Linked DNA regions of Homo sapiens. The protein of the gene in region 3 purifies or fractionates together with the protein of the main gene of each other region. This does not show direct contact. Each region holds a gene or a part of one and is shown on either strand. Other genes may lie near its edges. The genes, in order: NCALD, POGLUT2, MAP3K11 and NCS1.

The links.
Region 1: the proteins of MAP3K11 (region 3) and NCALD purify together in Homo sapiens (affinity purification with mass spectrometry, with the first as the bait; one large-scale study listed by BioGRID). This does not show direct contact.
Region 2: the proteins of MAP3K11 (region 3) and POGLUT2 purify together in Homo sapiens (affinity purification with mass spectrometry, with the first as the bait; one large-scale study listed by BioGRID). This does not show direct contact.
Region 4: the proteins of MAP3K11 (region 3) and NCS1 purify together in Homo sapiens (affinity purification with mass spectrometry, with the first as the bait; one large-scale study listed by BioGRID). This does not show direct contact.

The regions. Positions count from the first base shown.
Region 1 is NC_000008.11:101,692,943-101,697,215, forward strand, and holds part of NCALD (neurocalcin-delta), read right to left. Parts: intron 1-4,273. UniProt on the Homo sapiens protein: May be involved in the calcium-dependent regulation of rhodopsin phosphorylation. Binds three calcium ions.
Region 2 is NC_000013.11:102,783,408-102,786,778, forward strand, and holds the end of POGLUT2 (protein O-glucosyltransferase 2 isoform 1 precursor), read right to left. Parts: intron 2,933-3,371; coding exon 2,825-2,932; intron 1,106-2,824; coding exon 1,088-1,105; 3' UTR 874-1,087; downstream 1-873. UniProt on the Homo sapiens protein: Protein glucosyltransferase that catalyzes the transfer of glucose from UDP-glucose to a serine residue within the consensus sequence peptide C-X-N-T-X-G-S-F-X-C. Can also catalyze the transfer of xylose from UDP-xylose but less efficiently.
Region 3 is NC_000011.10:65,600,504-65,604,758, reverse strand, and holds part of MAP3K11 (mitogen-activated protein kinase kinase kinase 11), read left to right. Parts: intron 1-4,255. UniProt on the Homo sapiens protein: Activates the JUN N-terminal pathway. Required for serum-stimulated cell proliferation and for mitogen and cytokine activation of MAPK14 (p38), MAPK3 (ERK) and MAPK8 (JNK1) through phosphorylation and activation of MAP2K4/MKK4 and MAP2K7/MKK7.
Region 4 is NC_000009.12:130,216,920-130,221,192, reverse strand, and holds part of NCS1 (neuronal calcium sensor 1), read right to left. Parts: intron 3,362-4,273; coding exon 3,223-3,361; intron 1,469-3,222; coding exon 1,390-1,468; intron 1-1,389. UniProt on the Homo sapiens protein: Neuronal calcium sensor, regulator of G protein-coupled receptor phosphorylation in a calcium dependent manner. Directly regulates GRK1 (RHOK), but not GRK2 to GRK5. Can substitute for calmodulin. Stimulates PI4KB kinase activity.

The DNA.
Region 1 (4,273 bases), on a different chromosome or scaffold from region 3:
ACACAATAGACCTATCATTAAACCTCCCAAATGCGGGCTGAAGGGAATGTCCCCATCCGCATTGGACCTAGTCCTACCCCTATTGATTGGTATAAGATGTGGAGGCACAGGTAGAAGAAGCCGGGCCCACAAAGCTTGTTCTCCTCCAGTGAGGACCTTCAGGAGGGACAACCAGCAGGAAGACCCAGTAGACCCCTGTGTCTCCAATGTTTTTTGATTGTTTTTTGAGACAGGGTCTCATTCTGTCACCCAGGCTGGAGTGTAGTGGCACGCTTACGGCTCACTGCAGGCTCCATTTCATAGGCTCAAGCAATCCTCCCACCTCAGTCTCCTGAGCAGCAGCTGGGACTAGAGGTACTCCCCACCACACAGGGCGTTTTTTTTTTTTTTTTTTTTTTTTTTTTTTTTTCTGTACAGACAAGGTCTCATTATGTTGCCCAAGCTGGTCTCGAACTCCTGGGCTCAAGCTTCTCCTCCCTCAGCCTCCCAAAGTGCTGGGATTACAGACATGCGCCACCTCTCCTAGCCGTCTCCATTGTTTATGTGCATACAAATCCCCTGGGAATCTTGTTAAAATGCAGAATCTGATTGGGTAGTGTGGGGGAAAGGGGTGGGGCTGAGAGTCTGTATTTTTAATAAGCTCCGGTGTGATGCTGATGCTGCTGTTCTGAAGACGCTGCTTTGAAAAGCAAGGTTCCCACTTTGAGGAGCAAGGCTGCAGATGACATTCTTCAGGCTAGAGAGGCAAGTGGATGCCTATCATGGACCCTTGAGAGTCCACAATGACTCCTCAAGGATGACAGACATGTAACACTCTGTAAGTGCATGCCACATGTTTCCCCAGGCAGACTTCTAGTCCATTCCAGTGCTTTTCTCCCTGTGTGTGACAATGGTCTCAAGTTCCTTCTCAGCAAGCTTCCAGGCAGTCCTGAGATGGAAACCACCTGCCATCAGAGCTCTGAATTATTATGCATCCTCAGGCCTGAGCTAAACTGGGTACAGCTATGAGATCTGATGGGCGAAAGAGGATTCTGTGGAGTTTTGTAAGCACTACTGAAACTATCACCCCATGCCTGTGACCTCCACATGGGACTCAGTAAGGGCCCTTTGACCTCTGTGGTCAAAGGTAGTTTTTATTTGGGAAGAGGAATGAAAAGTCATTGTTTTTATCCCCAGATCATGACTTTGCTAATCAGAGTCACTTTGGGCATCTTGGCCCTGGGGACAATTTTTAGAAAAAATAGATTTTGCCAGGGAGTAGGCAGAAAATTTCAGAGAGTTCTGGAGCTCTAGGGGCAGCAAGGCAGGTGCAGAGGACAGAGAAAGGAAAGCAGCTGAGGGGAGTCGCCTCCAAATGGGAAAGGTGAGAGCAGAAAAAGACACTGAAGCTTCACCTGAGCTGCTTTACAGTCTTGCTCAGGACCAACCCTGCCAGAAGTTCCTAACATGTTCTGGATAAGGTAGGGTAAGTACTCTAATCTCAGTCAAAATAAGAATGAAAACAGACTCACCCAGTGTGCTGGCCCTTAGGCTGATCCCATCCCTCAGGGATGCTTCTGGACAGGCTCCCTGAGTCTGTCTCAAACCCACCCAATGTGCTTACTGAACTCCATAGCTGACTCTGCAGCGACTTGGTCTGGGAGGTAAAGCGCAGAGTTAGGGTGCTGTCTAGGATTATGGGTGTCCCTGGGGTAAGCTGAGCCATTTCATTCCCAAGAAATGCTCACTGAAGTGTGCTCTGGAGACAAGAGGGGAGCCATCGTCTGCCCTCCTCATCATGGTCCCCTGCCTGCTGTCATCCCAGCCCAGGTCTGCTCCACCAACTGTGCTGGGGCTGTAGTGCCATGTGCCTCACTGCCGGGGACACGTAAGTTCTTGGGGGAGCTAGGAAAGGCCGGAGAGATGGAGCTGTTTTTGCAAATGGGAGAAGAGAGGCCCTGAGATTTAACACGCCCAGGTGAATATTTAGTAACAGTAGACAGCAGGTGTCTTTTCACACCAGCAAAAGTCTTGAGGTCTAGCAACCTCTCCCCAGCTTGCTTTGCTCCCACAGTGGAAGCTTTTCGTAACTCTTGACATAGTCAAAATGGAATCGGCACCAACTATGAAAACATGCACACCCCTCACATACATTTCAAGCTCATATGATCTAAATATTTGGTGAATTCATAAGCCCAGGAATCTTAGGACAACAATAACACAACATTTAGAAATTGGCATCCCTGCAGATCACATTAGCACAACCTCCTTAAAGGAGAGCGCATGGAGCTGTTTCAGGAGTTGCAGAGGTGTTGCGGGGAAGAGCACTTACAGACAAGGGATAAGTTTATTTTTGCCAGAAGTTTTAAGGGGGCTGTGTATTTATTCATTATCAATCTTCTTTGGGGCTGGATTGTTCCTTCTCCAAGTCTGTTCTGGCCTCAGTAAGTTTGTCTCACGTGGTCCTTCTAGATGCCACTGGCTTTGTGCCTGTGACTGGCCATAGGAGGTGTCTCCCAGCTCAGATGCTCCACAAAGGCTGTTGTCAAGAGTCTGACAACATGATACGCTCCTTGGTGTCCTGGACCAGCAGCTTTGTTTATATTCTTCTCTCACCTGAGTGCTCACCTACCCCATCTCCCCTCCTCCTTGGACTCTTACCCATGTGTTAAGAGCAGATCAAAATGTTACCCTCCTCCAGGAAGCCTTCCATCATCTTCCCTTCTTCTATTGCTATGTGCAATCTCCCTCCCTCTGTGCTAGCAAGGGGCTCCAACCCAACCTCTCTCATATCACTTCCTTCCATTTACCTTGAATTCACACCCAGAATGTTCTCCTTTTAGATGTGAGGGTAGCAGTCACATCTATTTTTTGAATCCCTGATAGTACCTAACATAGGGTCTTGAATACAGTCAACTTCACTTAGTTTAAAGAATTTATTCAGGAATAACTGTCCCCCAGTTGCCCTCTCATTCTTTCCCTCTCTCACCTTTATTCTGCACTGCTCCAATTTATAAAGTTCCCCTTTATCCTTTTATATGTTTTTTTTAGTTTCCTCTTTTCTTTTTCTTCTCTCTCTCTTCACATAATTAAACATATTCATGTGAAACCCCTTAAAGACTTAATCTGTCAAAAGATTTGAGCTTTTCCCTTAGAAACCATGCAAACCCACCCACCATTGCAGACGATCTCAGAGGTTTGGGTATTTAGAAGCTGATCCATAGACCCCAGGTCATGGAAATCCCTGCTCTTAGGTGACTGCCTCTTCATCCATCCACTCACTCAGTCATTCATCAAATATGTATAAGCAACTAATGTGTACCAGGTATTGACATTGACCTAATCCTTTCCCTCATGGTTTTTGCTGTGAAATAAGGCAGACATTAGTAAAATAAAGAAATACATGTAAAACCATTGTTGAGAAAAGTGCTAGAAAGAAGAGTGCATGGCTTCTGTGATGATATAGTGGGAGAGTTAGGTTTTGCCAGGAGGGTTAGGGTAGGCTTCTCTGAGGAATGATGATTGCACAAAGACGTGAAGAAAGCATAGGGCTTAAATAAATCAGGGGTGAGCAAAACACCATGTGGAAGCCCAGAGTGGGAGCGTGGCAAGGAGGTCAACAGAGTGTGGGGGCGTTCAGTACACAATGTGGCTCTAGAGCAAGCAGGGAAAGACCACTGAGGCCTCACAGTGTTTAGGGATCTGTATTTCTCCAACGAGCAACAAAAGATGGAAGTGACATTAAATTTGATTTTCCTATTCACATTCATTTCCCAAATTTACCTCTCTTCCCTTCCTTACTTGCAGTCAGTGGTGTTCAGAGAATTGAAAAGTAGTCATTTGCAACATACCAGAATCTCTGGGAGACAGCTAAAGCTGTGTTAAGAGGGAAATTTATAGCACTAAATGCCCACATCAGAAAGCTAGAAGGATCTCAAATCGCCACTCTAACATCACAATTAAAAGAGCTAGGGAAGCAAGAGCAAACAAATCCAAAAGCTAGCAGAAGAGAAGAAATAACTAAGATTAGAGCAGAACAGAAGGAAACAGAGACACAAAAAACCCTTCAAAAATCAATGAATCCAGGAGCTGTTTTTTTGAAAAAATTAACAAAATAGACCACTAGCTAGACTAATAAAGAAGAAAAGAGAGAATAATCAAATAGACACAATAAAAAATGATAAAGGGTATATCACCACCGACACCACAGAAATATAAACTATCATCAGAGAATACTATAAACATCTCTATGCAAATAAACGGGAAAATCTAGAAGAAATGTATAAATTCCTGG
Region 2 (3,371 bases), on a different chromosome or scaffold from region 3:
GATTTATTTTGGTTCATCGTTCTGCAGGCTGTATAGGAAGTGTGGTGCCAGCATCTGCTTCTGGAGAGGGCTTCAGGAAGCTTCCAATCATGGTGGAAGGCAAAGTGGAGCCAGGGTATCAGGTGGCAAGAGAGGGAGCAACACAGAGAGAGGGGGAGGTGCCACACCTTTTAAAACCACCAGATCATGTGAACTCACAGTGAGAACTCACTTGTCACTGCAAGGATGGTGCCAGGCCATTCATGAGGGATCCACCCCTAAGATACAAACATCTCCCACCGGGCCCCACCTCCACCACTCAGAATTACATTTCAACATAAGATTTGGAAGGGACAAACATCAAAACCATATCACCCATTAGATATTTATTCAGTCTTTCTAGTTGCTGGCACTCTATTAGACGTTAGGACTACCCAGAAGAAAGGCCTGGTCTCTGAGGTCATGGCACTTAAAATCTAGTAAGGATAAAATATGTGCTGAAGGATGTGTAAGCCGGTTGAAGAAAAGAGGGCCAAGACATTCCAGGACAAGGGAAAGGCAAGAGCCAGGAAGGTAAGGACACAGGCATTGACAGAACTGGGAGAGGACTCGTTCTTCCAGAGGACAGTATTGATACTAGAAAGTGCTGAGAGATTTGACTAAAGATGCAGGTAGAGGCCATCTAATGACTGGCCTTGTACGAAGTATTAGCTAGAATTAAGTTTGGCTGAATACCCACAATAATATGGGCTTAAAAGGAGACAGGGGTTCATTGCTTTGTCATTTAAAACCAGTCTGGGCAGGTGGTCTGGGCTGCTGTGCATTAAGGACCCAGATTCTCTCTGTTTTTACTGCTCTCTGTTCCAAACACGGCTAATAATTAGCACAACGTAGTCCTTTAAAATAAAGGTGGTTTTATTATAAAATTCTAAAAATGTACTTTAAAGTACAGTCATGAGAATACTGCATAAGTAGAAATGTGTCTTCATACTGCAAACAATCACACAGATTTTATATTGTCCATGGAATTAATACTTAAAAAAATTCTTCTTTTTAGTTAAGAAGAGTCTTCAGAGCACCATTATTCTAATAGAAGTTATTTTGCATATCAGAGTTCATCTTTGGTCTGCAATTAAGAAGCAAAATATTTAGAGCTATCAAGAAGTCTTACACAAGTGAAGAAGACTTACATTCGTTAATTATTTTCCTGTAAAGATGAGAGGGAGCCAAGCTGCTGCTAGAGGCTTTTAGGGCTTGGGACTATTTCCAGAGGCCCAGAGTCAGCTAAGGGTAAAATCACATTGTGTTTCATAGCCTACTGATAAGGAACCCAAACATCCATGGGCTGTACTACTGTAAAGGCCTCATGTTATGAACAGTAGTGGTGAAAGACTAGGATAGACAATGAGCAAAAAATAAACGAAGCTATCATTCTGGCCCCTAACTTCTACTACTCAGTGGAAGAAACTGGCTGGGTACCTCCTCTCAATCACGTAGATGAAGATAAATAACTGAGCAGGAGTGGAGCAAGGAAGCTGCCAGTCTCACTTAGAGCCAAAGTGAGAAGTGTTCTGATACCAAATCACGGATTGGTGAGGGGGAACCTTTCGATTTGGCAATTCTTGTTTTATCATTGGTTTTAACTGATTTTTATGGCCTTGGAGCACTGACAGAGTTCACAATGATGACGAACCACCTCTGAGGGCCAGTTGGTTAGTGGTTAATGAGTTCTATAAAAAACAAAGACAAAAATAAAACAGCCAAAATTCTGATTTGTAGCATGTGCTGATTGTCATGGTGTAAATACTCCTATCAGGATGATTCCAAGCTACCAAAAATTTAACTAGTATGCAAAATTCCTGAATATTTATCAGTGAGCTCATATAAGCTGGTTCTGTCACATCACTGGGGCCAGCCTCACCTTAATTCCTTTTACACCTCCTTGAGAGGTAGACATAATAATTGCCAAATCTGCCTTCTTGTCTTTGGTTATAATACCACAATTTTGAACTTGTCCATTCAGAAACCTAATTATGTTGCCTAAAATGTTAAGTCAGCATATGTTACACACACACACACACACACACACACACACACACACACACTCTAGTTTATGCAATTTACATTCCTTCAAACAAACAAAAATCATAATCAAAGCAACAGTCCCCTGCCACACTATAGCTTTATATACAAGCACACACAATCACAATCTGATGATGAGAGATTGGTTTTTGCTTTGCTATAATCCAGCTAGATGATTTTGAGCACAATTCCTTTTTGGGCTCAGTTTTGTTAACCATAAAATGAAGGCATTTACTGGATGACTTCTAAGGTCCTTTCTACCTTAAAAGTCCAGATGTGAATCTGACTTTCATTTTTATCAATGAGATCCTTATGTAGTGGTATCAACTGAGATGACTTTCAAATGAAGAATTGGAAAACATTAATAATCGTGGTTACATATTTTTCCTTCTCTAAACTGGGATGATGAACTTTGCCAAACTTATCTCATGAGGAGATGAGGGCATCAGATGATACACATGAAAATATTTTTCAGACTGTAAGCATCCATTCAAATAGGGTGTGAGCTGGATTCTCACATTATAAAAGACTTCCCCCCACTTTGCCAGGGAGCTACCATGTCTTCTCAATTAACTGCATTGTAGCATCCTTTCTTGAGCACTGCTATCTTTTATACCTATCTCTCTGGCAGACTGAATTGCTTGGAGACCTCGAGAGGAACTCAAATATTTGCTGCCTGATTGAATGACTATAGGAATAAAAGCAAGTTTGGATCAATGTTAGTTTTTACTCTGACACCGGCCATAAGCTCAGTTCTGGTTACCTTTTTCCTATGGCAAGTACAAGGGAAGAGGTCGTCCTCAGTCTGTGGTTCTACCCTTTTCATGCCCTCTCGGATTTGGGGCTCACTCACTTGTAAATTGGCATATTCCTGTTTAAGCAACAATATAAAAGCATTCCTTATAAAACACTTTATATCCACCCAATGAGAGAGGCTAGAATATATGAAGACTATGATTCATTTAACTCATGTGTGTCAAACTGTGATCTGCATAGTCCGTCATATATACCAGTTCTGAACATCAACAGTAGAGCATCTGAGAGGAGGCCATCCTTTGAACACTGGCTGCCTATTCCTAACAGACACCTCTTTATGCTATCCTAAATTTCCATGACTTTTTTTTTTAACCGTCTTCTGCCTCACAGTAAAAATAATTTTGCACACAATCTTCCCTAGACTGAGAATGTGAAGACAGAGACTATTCTGCTTTCCTTATCATGGCTTGCACAAGCCTCCATCATCATCTTCATTTATCATGTGCTTACTCTGAGTGAAGCACTGTGCTAAGTACCTATGCTAAATGAATGAA
Region 3 (4,255 bases):
GCCGTTTAAACTCACTCCTCCCATCCCACCCAGCCCATCGCCTCTTCCATTCCCTGAGCTACACTTGATAGTTGTAACAACAGCTAACCTTTGTTGGTTCTCTTCTATGTGCCAAGCAGTTCTGTGAGGGGAGTAGTAGTATTGGCCTGCATTTTACAACAGAGAAAACTGAGGCACAGAGAGATTAAGTGGTTTGATGTAAGGCAACCAGTAGAGCAGGGATTTGATCTGCTCTTGCCTGTCTGACCACAGAGGCAGAGCCCTGGGCCTCCATCTGCCCCGCCATTTGCTACTCCAGCAGCTGCACTGCCCCCAGCATCTGTCCTGCAGGGACTGAACTGAGAGCTGGAAGGCCAAGGAGGCTTCTTGAATTCACTTGCTCTAAATTGTACCAGGCCAGATGGGCCAAAGGAGAACTTGAGAGCCTGTCAACCCAGGTGTGTAGGCTGAAGCAGGTCCTGACTGTTCCACAGAACTCTCTGGCCCTCAGCTCCCAGAAGCAGGGGCACAAGGGGCCTGGGCCCCATCGTTCTCAAGCTTGCCCCATGTTTTTTTATCCAAAGAATTTGTTAATTATTTATGAAGAGAAACTACTTATTAGCCCATATATTCATGAATAGTTCAGATCAGTGACAAACTTCTAAGTAATTCAACCCAAAGAAATTCTTCATATTCCAAAATCACTTTGCATTCTGAGAGATAGCAGCCTTCCTCATCTCCTCGAAGTATTTCATGGCATCATAACTTCTGTAGACATCTGTGCCCATAGAAATCTGAAATGCCTTCTTTCTTGGTCCAGCCCCTGCAAACTGAGAGAGCCGCAGCCCCCAGGGATACAGTGAATGCTCCCACAATATGAAATTGCAGATGTGTGGCCAGAAGGCCACATGTCTGAGGTTTCATGAAAGCACTGGAAACCATGGTAGTTACTGTTCTTGATAAGTATGTCGGCCTCAACACCAGTGCCCTTCCTGGCTGATGAAGAAATGGATTGCCACTTGCCCTGAAAGGATGTCAGCTGCCCAGCTCAGTGGCTGGCTGAGCATCTGGTTCCCCTAGCCCAATCCCACACTCCACGCATCATCTGGGTCCATGAAAGTACATGACATTGACCTCACAGCCACCCCCCGAAACCCAGCTAAGAATCAAATAATGGGGCTTCACAGAGGTCCCAGACCCTGTGAGATGGTCCCCGGCATAAGCCATACCACTGGAGAGTCACACACACCCTCACCCTGTCCCCAGTGGGCTGTTCTGGTCCCTGGAGAGCTGGCTGCAAGGAGTGGCACATTGGCAGGGTGCACTCAGCTACGCTGATAGCAACTGCCCTGTGAAGCTTGTTGCCTTAGAGCCAATAACTACGTGGCTGTGTCCTCCCTGTGAGACCTCACGGAAGCAGTTTCGCCTCTATCTATCTATCTTTGGGTCAAGAATAGTCACGCAGCTTTCTCCTAAACAACAGAGTTGCTAACTCTTGCTGCCAGGAAGCTTAGAGGCAGATTCAAATCCTAGCTGGATTATGTTGACCAAGTCCCTTACCCTTCAGAACCTCAGTTTCTCAGGCCATTGACTGCAGGAACTTCTGTTCACTCTCATTTTGTCTGCTGGACCCTATCTTCTCTTCCCTTTGTCTCATTTCTGTCTTTTATTTTTTTAAAGATAGAGTCTCATTCTGTTACCCAGGCTGGACTGCAATGGCATGATCATGGCTCACTGCAAACTCTGCCTCCCAGGCTCAAGTGATCCTCCCACCTCAGCTTCCTGAGTAGCAGGGACTACAGGTGCATGCCATGCTTGGCTAATTTTTATATTTTTTGTAGAGATGGGGTTTTGCCATGTTGCCCAGGCTGGGCTGCGCTTAAGTAGTCCACCCACCCCAGCCTCCCAAAGTGCTGGCATTACAGGTGTGAGCCACCACACCCAGCTTGCTCTTGCTATTTTCTTTTTTTTTTTTTAGAAGGAGTCTTGTTCTGTCACCCAGGCTGGAGTGCAGTGGTGCGACCTCAGCTCACTTCAGCCTCCACCTCCCACGTTCAAGCAATTCTCCCTCAGCCTCCCCAGTAGCTGGGATTACAGGCATGTGCCACCATGCCCAGCTAATTTTTTTTTTTTTGAGATGAAGTGTCATTCTGTTGCCCAGGCTGGAGGGCAGTGGTGCAATCTCGGCTCACTACAACCTCCACCTCCCAGGTTCAAGTGATTCTCCTGCCTCAGCCTCCCAAGTAGCAGGGATTACAGGCATGTGCCACAATGCCCGGCTAATGTTTGTATTTGTAGTAGAGATGAGGTTTCACCATGTTGACCAGGCTGGTCCCGAACTCCTGACCTCAAGTGAGCCACCTGCTTCAGCTTCCCAAAGTGCTGGGATTACAAGCGTGAACCACCATGCCCGGCCTAATTTTTGTATTTAGTAGAGACAGGGTTTGACCATGTTGGCCAGGCTAGTCATGCACTCCTGACCTCAAGTGATCTGCCCTACTTGGCCTCCCAAAGTGCTGGGATTATAGGCTTGAGCCACCACTCCCAGCCTCTCTTGCTTTTTTTTTTTTTTTTTTTGAGATGGAGTCTCACTCTGTCACCCAGGCTGGAGCGCAGTGGCGGGATCTCGGCTCACTGTAACCTCCGCCTCCTGGGTTCAAGCGATTCTCCTGCCTCAGCCTCCCAAGTAGCTGAGACTACAGGTGCGTGCCACCATGCCCTGCTAATTTTTGTATTTTTTAGTAGAGACAGGGTTTCACCATGTTGGCCAGGATGGTCTCGATTTCTTGACCTCGTGATCCGCCCACCTTGGCCTCCCAAAGTGCTGGGATTACAGGTGTGAGCCACCGCACCCGGCCAACTCTTTCTTTTTTTTAAACATGATTTCCCCTCTTCTGTTTAAACTCACTGTAAATGATCAGTTCTTCACCTGCGAAGTGGGGGTGATATGATAACCTCGTGGTTGGTGCAAGGATTATAAAAATGGATTCTTCATCAAACAAGAATTTGCTTTTTTTTTTTTTTGAGACGGAGTCTCGCTCTGTTGCCCAGGCTGGAGTGCAGTGGTGTGATTTTGGCTCACTGCAAGCTCCGCCTCCTGGGTTCATGCCATTCTCCTGCCTCAGCCTCTTGAGTATCTGGGACTACAGGCGCCCACCACCACGCCTGGCTAATTTTTTGTGTTTTTAGTAGAGACAGGGTTTCACCGTGTTAGCCAGGATGGTCTCGATCTCCTGACCTCGTGATCATCCCACCTGGGCCTCCCAAAGTGCTGGGATTGCAGATGTGAGCCACCGCGCCTGGCCCAGGGATTTGCATTTTAAGAGCCAGGCATCAACATGTTAAACACTGCCCTGACCTCATATGATGAAGCAGGCAGACTCATAAACAAGTCCAGTAGCACCTCTATGAGGCATAACGTGAGCAATAACTGTGTAGGTTCAGGGAGATTCTGGGAGGGCTTCACAGAGGAAGTGACATCCCAGTTGGTCTTGGATGGTGCATAAGAGGTCACTGAAAGCCAAGGTGGGAAAGGTCAGCCACCCAGAGTGAATAGTGTGTGCGCAGGCATGCAGCTCACCATACCCAAGGAAAAGGCAACCTGGCTGAACTCCGAGAAGAGTTGAGAGCCGAGGAGTCTCAGGACTGGGGCTGCGGACAGGGGCCAAGGCACATGGGTCAGTAGATGTTGATTGAATGAATGAGTGAATGAAGCTGGAAGTGATGGGTAGTTTTTAAGCAGAGACCTGTCTTTAACAGGTTTGCATTTTAGAAGGATTCCCTTGTCCCTTCAGTGGCAGTGGCCGGGGTGGGAGTTGGGTGAGGTAAGAGGCAGAGAGTCTGAGTAAGGGTTGGGGCTGACAGAAGGGACTGTGAGCTAAGTCCTGGTTCATAGTAGAAGCTCATTTTTCCCAGCCTTGTATTTCTCCCTCCCGACATCCAACCTGCTGCTGCACTCCAGGCAGGAGGGGAAAGGCAGAGGGACAAGGCCAGGGAGGGCTTCAGAGGACCAGCCAAGGAGGCCAGACTTTCTCCTAGTGACAGTGGAGAGCCACAGCAGTTTCTAGAGCCAAGGAGGGATCTGACAAAATCAGGGCTTGTGAGAGCCCATCCTAGAGTCCCTTGTCCTTAATGAGGGGTTCCCCATCCCTGCCCAAGTGGTCTAGAATGGAGTCAGGCCAACCCTAGACTGGAAGGTAGGACACTAGTGTCTTGAAATCTAGGGCAGAGTCTGGCTGGGAAATGGTGGAGAGCAAAGGTTCTACTGCCCTTGCCT
Region 4 (4,273 bases), on a different chromosome or scaffold from region 3:
AATTAGCCAGGTGTGGTGGCACATGCCTGTAATCCCAGCTACTTGGGAGGCTGAAGCAGGAGAATTGCTTGAACCCAGGAGGCAGAGATTGTAGTGGGCCGAGATTGTGCCACTGCACTCCAGCCTGAGCAACAGAGCGAGACTCTGTCTATAAATAAATAAACAAATAAAATAAAGGGATGGGGCATTGGGCTGCCAGGGCCGAGGTATCAGTGGCTGGAGCTGAGTGCGTGGGAGAGCCCGGGGCCTGGGATGTTACCCAGAGGAGCACCCCTCTCCTTCCCCCAACTCCAGCCCCCACCTCCTCCCCACAGTCCACTCTGCTCCCACAATTATGGTGTGGCCTGCTACAGTCAACATTAGAAAATAAAATAGTGCATTGAGAGGAGGAGCTTTTGCATAAATAAAGTTCTCTTTTATTTCTTAAAAAAAAAAAAAAGAAAGAAAGAAAAAGAAAAAGAAACTGCAGGGTCTTCTTGCTGCCGATGGACTGAAGTGTGAAAGTCTTACTGAGCAGGGAGTTCTGGCCAGCTGGTTTCCATCTTCCCTCCCCTCCACGCACCCTGCATTCCTCCTAATGCCGCCAGGGGCCTGCACAGCTTCCCCTCCCAACTCCCTCTCAGCCTCCCTCCACTGGGCCTCGCACACGCGGGCCCCCTGGCTGGAGCCCTTAACGCCCCCTCCCCAGCTCCTCTCATCCCCAGCTCCTCTCATCCCCAGCTCTGCGCCTACCAGGCAGGTCCTCTCCTGCTCACAACTCCCTCTCTCCTCCTTGCCTGCAGTTTCCTGAGGTTTTTTTTTAAATCCTGCTGCCACTCTAGACTGATCGCCCTGAGAGCAGGGACCCATCTATCTTATCCCCCAGTGGATCCCTGGTACCAACACGTGGCTGCATTCAGTCGTTATTTGGTCAATGAATGAGTGAGTAAGTGAATGACTGAAAGCAAGAATCAAAGCAATGGCTATGAAAGAGGTGGGTCCGGCACTGAACCTGGGTCTTGGGTCCCCACCGACCCTCCTGCGGCCCAAGTCTGCACCTGCCCGAGTGCAGCCAAGGCTCCTGCCAGCCTCTGCCCCCAGCCCTCCCTGTCCACCTGCCTCAGCGAGCTCCTTCCTGCTGCCGGTGCCTCCAGGAAACCCTCCCACCTGGAAGCACAGATGTCTGCGCTGCTCTCTGAACCCTGGACAGTCAGCCTGGCCTAGTTACGTGGCCGTGTGAGGGCCACCTGCCCAGGGCCCAGGCCTGCCCTCTGCAGACACAGCTGGGACGCCATCTGTGGTCACTGCAGTGGGTGTCTGGCACCCCTGCCTGGTGAGGGCCGAGGGCTGCCTCCCTCTGACCTGGGCCCTCCAGCTGCTGCCACACAGGGCCAAGGGGGCAGGACTTACACCGTAGCTTCTCATCCAGGGTTCCCCGTGAGGTCACCGACAGCGCCTGGATGAACTCGGAGAACTCAATTCGCCCGTCCTGACAGGAGAGAGAGGGGATTGCCTCAGTCAGTGCCGGCCAGGCCACCGGGTCAGGCTGAACCTCGGGACGGGCGAGGGGCAGTCGCAGGCTCCAGACACTGTGGCCAATGGACACTCAGGTGGAGAGGGCAGGCTCGAAGGAATGGGGGGCGAGAGGCAAGGAGAGGGTGGGGAGCAGAGGCTGGGGGACTGTGTGGGGGGTTAGAAGTGGGAGAGGCCAGGAGGGAGGCACAGGAAGAAGGACTGAGGCTGAACGGAGAGGCTTACTCCACTCTTGATGGGAGAAGGTGCCAGAAGCACCAATGCCTGAGCTCCTCTCAGCAACAGCCCGGAAGCCCCTCGGCCTAGAGCTGTGGGCTCATGGGCTTTTGCAGAGGAAAGGCCGCTGCAGGTTGTTTAATTCCACCTCTTATTTGCAAATGAAGAAACCGAGGCCCAAGAAGGGAAGAGCCCTTCCCAGGGTCAGGCATGTGACTCCCAGCCTGGGGGCACCTGGGAGAAGCTGGGGATGGGATAGAATAGAAACCTCCACGGTGCCAGCAGCAGGGGGTACAGAGACAAGTGGCAGTAAATCCACCCTCAAATGCTACTGCAGGACAGAATCAGGGTCATCGCAGATAACCCAACAGCTATCCGTGCAGCCACTGCCCGGAGGTGACACAAGCTACCACATGGTAAGTCTTGAAAACATGATGCTCAGTGGAAAACGCCAGGAACAAAAGATCCTATAGCCTACGATTCTCAGAGCCTCAGTTTCCTGACCTACAAAATGGGTATTAAAATACCCAGCTCCCAGGTGCTTGTAAGGCCTCATTAAAAATAATCCATGTATGGCCGGGCAAGGGGGCTTACACCTGAAATCCCAGCACTTTGGGAGACCAAGGTGGGTGGATCATCTGAGGTCAGGAGTTCAAGACCAGCCTGGGCAATACGGTGAAACCCCATCTCTACTAAAAATACAAAAATTAGCCAGGTGTGGTGACGGCGCCTGTAATCCCAGCTTCTCAGGAGGCTGAGGCAGGGGAATTGCTTGAATCTGGGAGGCAGAGGTTGCAGTGAATTGAGACTGCACCACTGCACTCCAGCCTCGGCAACAGAGCAAGACTCTGTCTCAAAAAAAAAAAAAATCCATGTAAAGAGCTTAAACATAGTAAATGTTCAGGAAATATTGGTTATTATTATTAATCCTGTTATTATCATGGGAGGTATTTGCATTTTATGCTTGTAAGAGAAGTGTCAGGGTGTACATGTGTATACATGCATGTGTGTTGTGCACTGTATACATATGCATATGTGTATATGTCTCTCTGTGTGTACACGTGTGTGCACCTGCAAGTCCATGCATTGTGTGCATATGTGTGCATTTCTGTGCACTGTATGAATATACATGTATGTTCACGTGTGTGGCTGCATCTCCATGTATGTGTGCCCACATGTGTGCATGGTATTCGCCTGCATGTGCACATACACGTCTGTGTGAGAGCTTGGATGTGCATGTCAGTACATGTGTGGGTGTACATATGTGTGCACACATGTGCATGCATTTGGATGCATCTGTGTTTATTGTGTGTCTGCATGTGTACATGTGCATGCATTTATGTGCGACTATGTATCTGTGCATGTCAGTATGCACTCGTGTGTGTGTTCCTTCTCTAGAAGGGAACATCGGCAGGAGAGAGTGGGTGTGGAGACGCTGCGGGTACCCACAGGAGCTGAGCCAGCTGCCGCAGGCCCCATCAATCCCCAGCTCACCTTGTTTTCATCAAAGACGTTGAAAACAAATGTGGCAAACTTGGTGGGGTCTCCGAACGGGAAGAATTGCTTGTAGATCTTCTGGAAGCCTGCCGCATCCAGCTGCCCACTGGGGCAGTCCTTGATGAAGCCTTTGTACCTGGAGGCAGCAGACCGGGCCAGAGAGGGTAAAGGAGACGCCAACATCACCCACCCACCACCAACATCGCCTGCCCGGGGCCCAGGAAAGCTGTGGCTCCTTGTTCAAAGAGATGGTGCCCCATGGGGCCATGGACTTGATAGGCACAGGCGCAGTCCCACCTCTGCCTCTCACTAGCAGTGTGACCTTGGATACAGACTTCACCTCTCCTAGCCTCGTCTGCATAAGGGGGTTACGAACTGACATAGGAATTAACCCAGATACTGCACACAGAGTGAGCACTTGGCCACCCAGCCCTGTGCTCCACCCAAGGGGGCTAAAACAAGAGTCACATGAATGGCCTCCCCAAAGCCGCATGCCTGCACAAGACCCTCCCACCTCCCCACCTTCTCTGCTGAGCCCCTCCTGGCATCAGGCTGGGTGGGCTGCTGCTGGTGCTGGTGGGTAGACCACCATATGGAGCCAGCAGGTGGCTCCTCCCACATGCCCACACCCTGCCCCTCAGTCTCTGTTCCCAGGGAACTGGGTAAACAGCATGGGGGGATCCTGGCTGTTCCAACTGGACTTGTCCACCCTGCAGTCCCAGTGCCCAGCACAAAACCCTCCAGATCCCTACGTGGCTGACGCCGGAATGGCTTTGCACTCCCAATCCCAGGACAGATCTCTGCCATTCACTGCCTGTACAGCCTCAAGCAAACGCCCTCACCTGTCTGAGCCTCAGTTTCCTCATCCATAACAAGGGATGGTTCTCATACCCCTCTTGTTGGTATCAGGGGACATGGTGCATGTAACCACAGGGCTTAGCACAAAAATGAGTCGAGAGTGTGATCTTTAGAATTGTGAACTTAAATATGTGTTGTTCTAAACCCAATTCACAAACTGGCTCCTGTAGGCAGTTTAACCACCCCTCCC